Homo sapiens: one gene and its partner. The protein of the gene in region 1 purifies or fractionates together with the protein of each later gene. This does not show direct contact. Each region holds a gene or a part of one and is shown in the gene's direction. Other genes may lie near its edges.

Region 1 (3,500 bases):
GACAGTGAGACTCCGTCTCCAAAAAAAAAAAGAGAAAAAGAAAAAGAAGTACAGTCAGCCCTCTATATCCATGGGTTCTGCATCTGTGGATTTGCACAACTGCAGATCTAAAATATTCAGAAAAATAATTCCAGGTTCTAAAAAACAAAACTTGAATATGCCACGCTTGAGTACTGCATTGAATTCATGCAAATTAAATGATAGGTAGGCATTGTATTAGGTATTGTAAGTAATCTAGAGATTATTTAAAGTACAAGGGAGAATGTGCATAGGTTATATGCAAATGTGACCCCATTTTTATAAGTGACTTTAAGCATCAGCAGATTTTGGTATACAGGGGAGATCCTAGAATCAATCTCCTATGGACAACAAGGGATGACTGTGTACTAATGAGTAGACTTCAGTTTGATTTTTTTGTTTGTTTGTTTTTTGTTTTTTTTTGAGATGGAGTCTCGCTCTGTTGCCCAGGCTGGAGTCAGTGGCGTGATCTTGGCTCACTGCAACCTCCGCCTCCAAGCGATTCTCCTACCTCAGCCTCCTGCATAGCTGGGACTACAGGTGCGTGCTGCCACACCTGGCTAATTTTGTATTTTTAGTAGAGACGGGGTTTCACCGTGTTGGTCAGGCTGGTCTTGAACTTCTGACCTCGTGATCCACCCGCCTTGGCCTCCCAGAGTGCTGGGATTACAGGTGTGAGCCACTGCACCCAGCCAGAATTCAGATTTTTAGTTGAGTCAAGTAAATGAGATTATTAATAAATGAGTCCCAGAGAATATGGGATTTCTTCTTAAAAAGCCAGAACATAAATTTTCTGCACCTAGATCAGTATATTTTAAGGAAATTTGCCTTACTTGTTGTACTTATGAATTTCTAAACCTTTCAGATCCTCTAACGTAGCTTTCATTAGATATCCCAAAACATATTTGCCAGCTGTTGAATGTAATACCACCTCACAGTCTGGGTAAGGACAGTTTATGACAAGTGGACAGGCAAGGAGGAGACTGGTGTTAAGCATTTTAGTGATGATGCCCATACACAGGTAACTTTTCAAAGTTTATTCTACTCTATACCAACAGAAATCAGAGTTGCTATTTCTCTAGAAGAAAACATACACACACCTGTGCCAAGGGAATAACAGAATGGATTTATGCTTTAACCTTCTTTTTTTCTCTCCCACCCATCCCTTCCATATGTTTGTTTTTCCAGAATTATCTTTTGGGGAAAAAAGAAACAGCTGAGATGGCAGATAGAAACAAAGAAGTCCTCTTGGAGGTATGACAACCCCCATTTTCCTGCACATTTAAAAATTAAAATATTAGGCCAGGCATGGTGGCTCACGCCTGCAATCCCAACACTTCGGGAGGCTGAGGTGAGTGAATCACAAGATCAGGAGTTCAAGACCAGCCTGCCCAAGATGGTGAAACCCTGTCTGTTAAAAAATAAAAAAATTAGCCAGGCGTGGTGGTGGGCGCCTGTAATCCCAGCTACTCGGGAGGCTGAGGCAGGGAATTGCTTGAACCCGGGATGCGGAGGTTGCAGCGAGCCGAGATTGCACCACTGCATTCCAGCCTAGCAACAGGGTGAGACTCTGTCTCAATAAAATAAATAAATAAATAAATAAATAAAATAAAATATTAAATACCTTTTTGAAGTCAAGTATGTCAGTGTTCTATATTTGTAGTTACAATTTTAATTAAAGAAGCCTGTGTATTCTTTGATAGTATGAGGGAGAGAGTTCAACTGTGTGAACGTGTTAGGCCACTGAAGACCCTTTATTATTTTGCCAAGCCATATTCTAGTGATCTAAGAATAATGAGCTTTTAGGGGCTGCCAAGTGGGAGAGGTGGCTGGTCAATGAAGGATGTGGTTTTGCTGTTTTTATCTGCTTACTCAGAGAGAAATTTGAATATAATTAGCTGTTCACAAATTATTTCCAGCCTTATCCTTAAATAATTAAATAATTTTTAAAATCATGATCATTTTTTGGAAAAATATAATTGAATTTTTGGCTGATTTTATAGAACTAAAATCAAATAACTTAGTATACTTGAAAACCTGAATAAACCCTTACTTACCAGCAAGGCAATTAGGAAGCGAAGATCAACATTCAGTTTTCATAGTGATACTAACTACGGTTAAGTAAAAATCTGCCTTGTAATTCCTAATTTTTCTGTACTTTGAGGAGAAAAATTAATTTAGGCCCAAATGTCCTATATTAGTGTTTTCTGAGGATTTCTCTTTTCTTTCACAAATACATGATTGATTTCTTTAATATTAGATTTTTATCAAAGCATAGTGTTTAGAACTTAGAATTTTGAGTGTTTATAGTCCTTTCAACCTAGTATTATTTTTTAAATAAATGCCCTCTTTGTCTTAGAGTCACATAAATGGATAGTTTTTAAATTCTTAAAGTTTAATCATACACTTAGCACGTTGCATTCTTTTAAAATATATTCCTGTTTAGTTTGACAGCTAATCTAAATGTAGAGAAAAAATAAAGTCTAACGCTTGGTTTGCCCTGACAGTTTTATTAAATTTAGTGTAACTGTGCTGTTTGCAAAGGTATTTAACTACTGTTACATGCAACTCAGTTCATGTGTCAACTTAGTTTTTCTCCGAAACAGTGTTTTAGTTAAAAGTTTGTAGGTAAAAATTCAGTATTACATGTATGACTGGCATTTTTATTTAATAAACATTTTAGGATTGCCATAGTAGTTCCAAATTCATATTGTGTTTAGAATAGAAAGTGTTTTGTCTTGTTTTTGTTTTTGTTTTTGTTTTTGTTTTTGTTTTGAGACAGAGTCTCGCTCTGTTGCCCAGGCTGGAGTGCAGTGGTGTGATCTCAGCTCACTGCAATCTCCGCCTCCCAGGTTCAAGCAATTTTTGTGCCTCAGCTGCCCACATAACTGGGACTACAGGCTCGCGCCACCATGCCTGGCTTTTTTTTTTTTTTTTAAGTAGAGACGTGGTTTCACTATGTTGGCCAGGCTGGTCTTGAACTCCTGACCTCAAGTGATCCACCCGCTTCCCAAAGTGCTGGGATTACAGGCATGAGCCACTACACCTGGCTGGAAAGTTCTAATTGAGGTTAAATTAGCAGCTTGGTTTTAATATAAAACCATTTTGGTTTAATAACTGTCATGCATTTCACAGGAGTAAACACAACTTTGTTCTGAGAATCCAACGATCATAAGTCTTTGCAAATAATCTTGTTATTTTAGGAATGTTTTTGTGGAAGTTCTGTAACTGTACCAGAAATTGAAGGAGTCCTTTGGTTGAAGGATGATGGCAAGAAGTCCTGGAAAAAGCGTTATTTTCTCTTGCGAGCATCTGGTATCTACTATGTTCCCAAAGGAAAAGCAAAGGTGTGTCCCTTCTGTTGGAATTTGAACTTCCTCATTATGCTAATTGCTTTTAATTTGTATTGAGTATGCTGACAAGGTGAACCCAGGCTATGATTTGTTTCAGTTCGTGGAAGACATAGAATATTGCTTTGTTTA
Region 2 (3,500 bases), on another chromosome or scaffold:
TTTATATTATATATTATATTTTTATATAATATATAATATATTATATATAAATATATATAATATATAATATATTATATATTATATATATATTATATATATTATATATTTTATATTTTATATAATATATAATATATATATAATATATATTATATATTATATATTTTACATAATATATAATATATTTTATATAATATATAATATATTTTTATATAATATATAATATATTGTATATTTTTATATATATAAAAATATAAAGGTTTTATATATATATAAAGGTCATATATATATGAGGTTACTGGGAGTCCTTCTAAGGCTCTCCATATATTTTTATATATATAATTATACATTTTTATATATATACTATATTATATTATTATATATTATATAATATATTATATGTTATATATTATATATTTTTATATAATATATAATATATAATATATATTTTATATTATATATAATATATAATATATATTTTATATAATATATAATATATAATATATATTTTATATTATATATAATATATAATATATATTTTATATTATATATGATATATTATGTCACATATAATATATGATATATGTCACATATATGATATATTATATGTGACATATAATATATCATATATAATATATTATATATTATATATCACATATAATATATTATATATGATATATTATATGTTATATATTTTTATATTACAAATATTTTATATATAAATATATTATATATTTTTGTATTATATATATTTTTATATAAATATATTTTTTATCTTATATATATTTACATATATAAATATATATAAATACATATATATATATATATATGCATGAGTGAAATACTGAAAAGAAATTCAAGATCACTCCAATTCAGAAACAGGTGCTTCCTCATGTATGTAAAATATATATAATATAAAAATATATATTTTATATATAATATATATTATGTAAATATATATATGTATTTTTTTGAGACAGAGTCTACTCTGTTGCCCAGGCTAGAGGAGAGTATCATGATCTCAGCTCACTGAAACCTCTGCCTCCCAGGTTCAATCCATTCTCCTGCCTCATCCTCCCGAGTAGCTGGGATTACAGGCACGTGGCACCACACCCAGCTACGTTTTGTACTTTTAGTAGAGATGGGGTTTCACTATGTTGGCCAGACTGGTCTTGGACTCCTGACCTCAAGTGATCAACCCGCCTTGGCCTCCCAAAGTGCTGGGATTACAGGCGTGAGCCACCGCACCTGGCCTCAATTATACATATTTAATAATAATTTGGGGGCCACATTTTCTCAGATATTATGAAAAGTTTTTGAAGATTGAAAAATACATTCATTTATTTGGCAAATATTTTGTGTATCTGCTATGTACTAAGCACTCTCCACAGCACTTGATATTTTACAGCAACAAAATACTGCATAAACTTCATTATGTGTATAAGCCTTATTTAATCCATATATATATGTATATATATATATATATATATATATATATATATATATACAGTGATTATGCTTTCACTATGTAAATGCCATAATGTACAAGAATATAACTCACAGCCCCTGCTTTCAGGTGGCTTACAATATTCCTTAAACAAAATGCTAAACTTCAGAGGAAACAGAAAATTCTAAAAATAGGTTATTTATAGTGGTATGCATCTTTTCCCCTACATCCCGTGTCAAAATTATTTTGTTTTTTGCTGTTTGTTGACTACCTGAACACACCACAATATTCATTATTTAGAATTGACATTGCATTCTTTATATCCATCTGTACTTTTCTAGAACCAGCCCGCCTCCTCTTTCAATGTACTGTTTACTAATTATCAAAATCTTAGTGTTCTATTTTTCTGAATGTTGGATTAAAATATTGCCCACCCTTTAAAACTCAGAGAATGTAAATAACTGTCAACTTAGTTTCTCTTCCCTATTCATCAAAATTCATCATGTGGAAAGCTGCTTTATCTCCCCTGTGGACCAAGAGGGAAGAAAGAAAAGAAAAACAAATAAGCGGTCTCATTGCTGGGTAAACTCAAGTCAAATAAAGGAGCTTTATTTCTCCAGCAACTTCATTACTCAAGACAAACCAGGAGCTTCCTTTTTGAACATGGCACTATTCCAGTTTTTGTGAATGTATATACATATAAAAAATCCATGTAACACAATATTTTATCTCCTGTAGTTTATAACCAAAAAGAAACTACAAAATTCATCATATGCAAAATTAACCTGATAATCAAGTCCACAGGTATATTTGGGGGTTTCCATGATCTCTCTTTAATTGGGGTAATAGAACCTCCAATTAATTCAAGTCAGTTAGACACAACGGTATGTGAAAATATTTCTGATTATGGATTATAAAACATAGATACATGAACATGAAATGAATCATCTATGGTTTGGGCAAATGAGGACACATTGGGCAGGAAACATCCTATAAAGACTAAGAATTAGTTTTGGATTACTTCCAAGAATTGAAAAGGAGAAAGAGATACTGAAAGAAATGGTGCCAAGAATATGGTGGGATATAGTTGGAGGAATGAAAATATATTTTATATTGTTTCTGTTACCAAAGAAATTTTGTTTCCATTTTATATGTGAACATTTCCTATAAAGAGCTATAATTCGAAGACTTCTTTCGAGATAGCAAGGTGTAATGAAGACACTGAACAAACTTCCAATATAAATTATTTTTCTCTTTGATTAGGTTCACTACCTTATGGTTCTGTCTGCCAACTGGGCCTATGTGAAAGACGCCTGCCGGATGCAGAAGTATGAAGACATCAAGTCGAAGGAAGAGCAAGAGCTTCATGACATCCACTCTACTCGCTCCAAAGAGCGGCTCAATGCATACACATAAATGCATCTTCCTGTTCTTTCTACCATTTGAATGCATTGGTGTTTAACTAAGGGCCATCCAACCATCCAACCTTTAAAAAACAAAACGAAAGTGCTTCTCATCAATGATATGTAAGGTGACTTATGAATCACCTGAGTACAATTCTTTGTTGTTTAGCACTTAAATTTCCCAATTTATTAAATTGATGTAAATCAGATCTTTTCTACAAGCTCCTATCCAGCCTTTTTTTTGAAATTTCTCAAACTCATTTACTAGTTCTGTAAAATCAAAGATACTAACATTGTCAAATGCAAAGATTTGTTTGATTTTTAACCACTTCCCATGTGTTATACATAACACCTTTTGCATTATTTCTTATGTTTTGAAAAGAAAATAGCTTTTTATACTTTTTAGTTTTGATTTCGGTAACTAGTTTAACTACAGGTAACCTTCAAAGGGACCATTGTACATTATGAACAATAGATAGAGATTACATCTTGATGACTCTTGAAATATGGAAATTTTGTCTGAAGATCAGTGGCCATATTACTGTAGGCCCTGGTTCATGTTTTCATCAATCTAAGGTGCAATTTCTAAATTTGTAAGAGTAGGTTTAAAAAAAAAAGTGCTTCTTATCTTTGTTAACATTGTACTTTTCCTT

What was found. The genes of interacting proteins can lie anywhere in the genome.
Region 2: the proteins of RAPH1 (region 1) and GPM6A purify together in Homo sapiens (co-immunoprecipitation; one large-scale study listed by IntAct). This does not show direct contact.

Annotation. Positions count from the first base shown.
Region 1 is NC_000002.12:203,455,302-203,458,801, reverse strand, and holds part of RAPH1 (ras-associated and pleckstrin homology domains-containing protein 1), read left to right. Parts: intron 1-1,206; coding exon 1,207-1,272; intron 1,273-3,221; coding exon 3,222-3,365; intron 3,366-3,500. UniProt on the Homo sapiens protein: Mediator of localized membrane signals. Implicated in the regulation of lamellipodial dynamics. Negatively regulates cell adhesion.
Region 2 is NC_000004.12:175,634,265-175,637,764, reverse strand, and holds part of GPM6A (neuronal membrane glycoprotein M6-a), read left to right. Parts: intron 1-2,707; coding exon 2,708-2,860; 3' UTR 2,861-3,500. UniProt on the Homo sapiens protein: Involved in neuronal differentiation, including differentiation and migration of neuronal stem cells. Plays a role in neuronal plasticity and is involved in neurite and filopodia outgrowth, filopodia motility and probably synapse formation.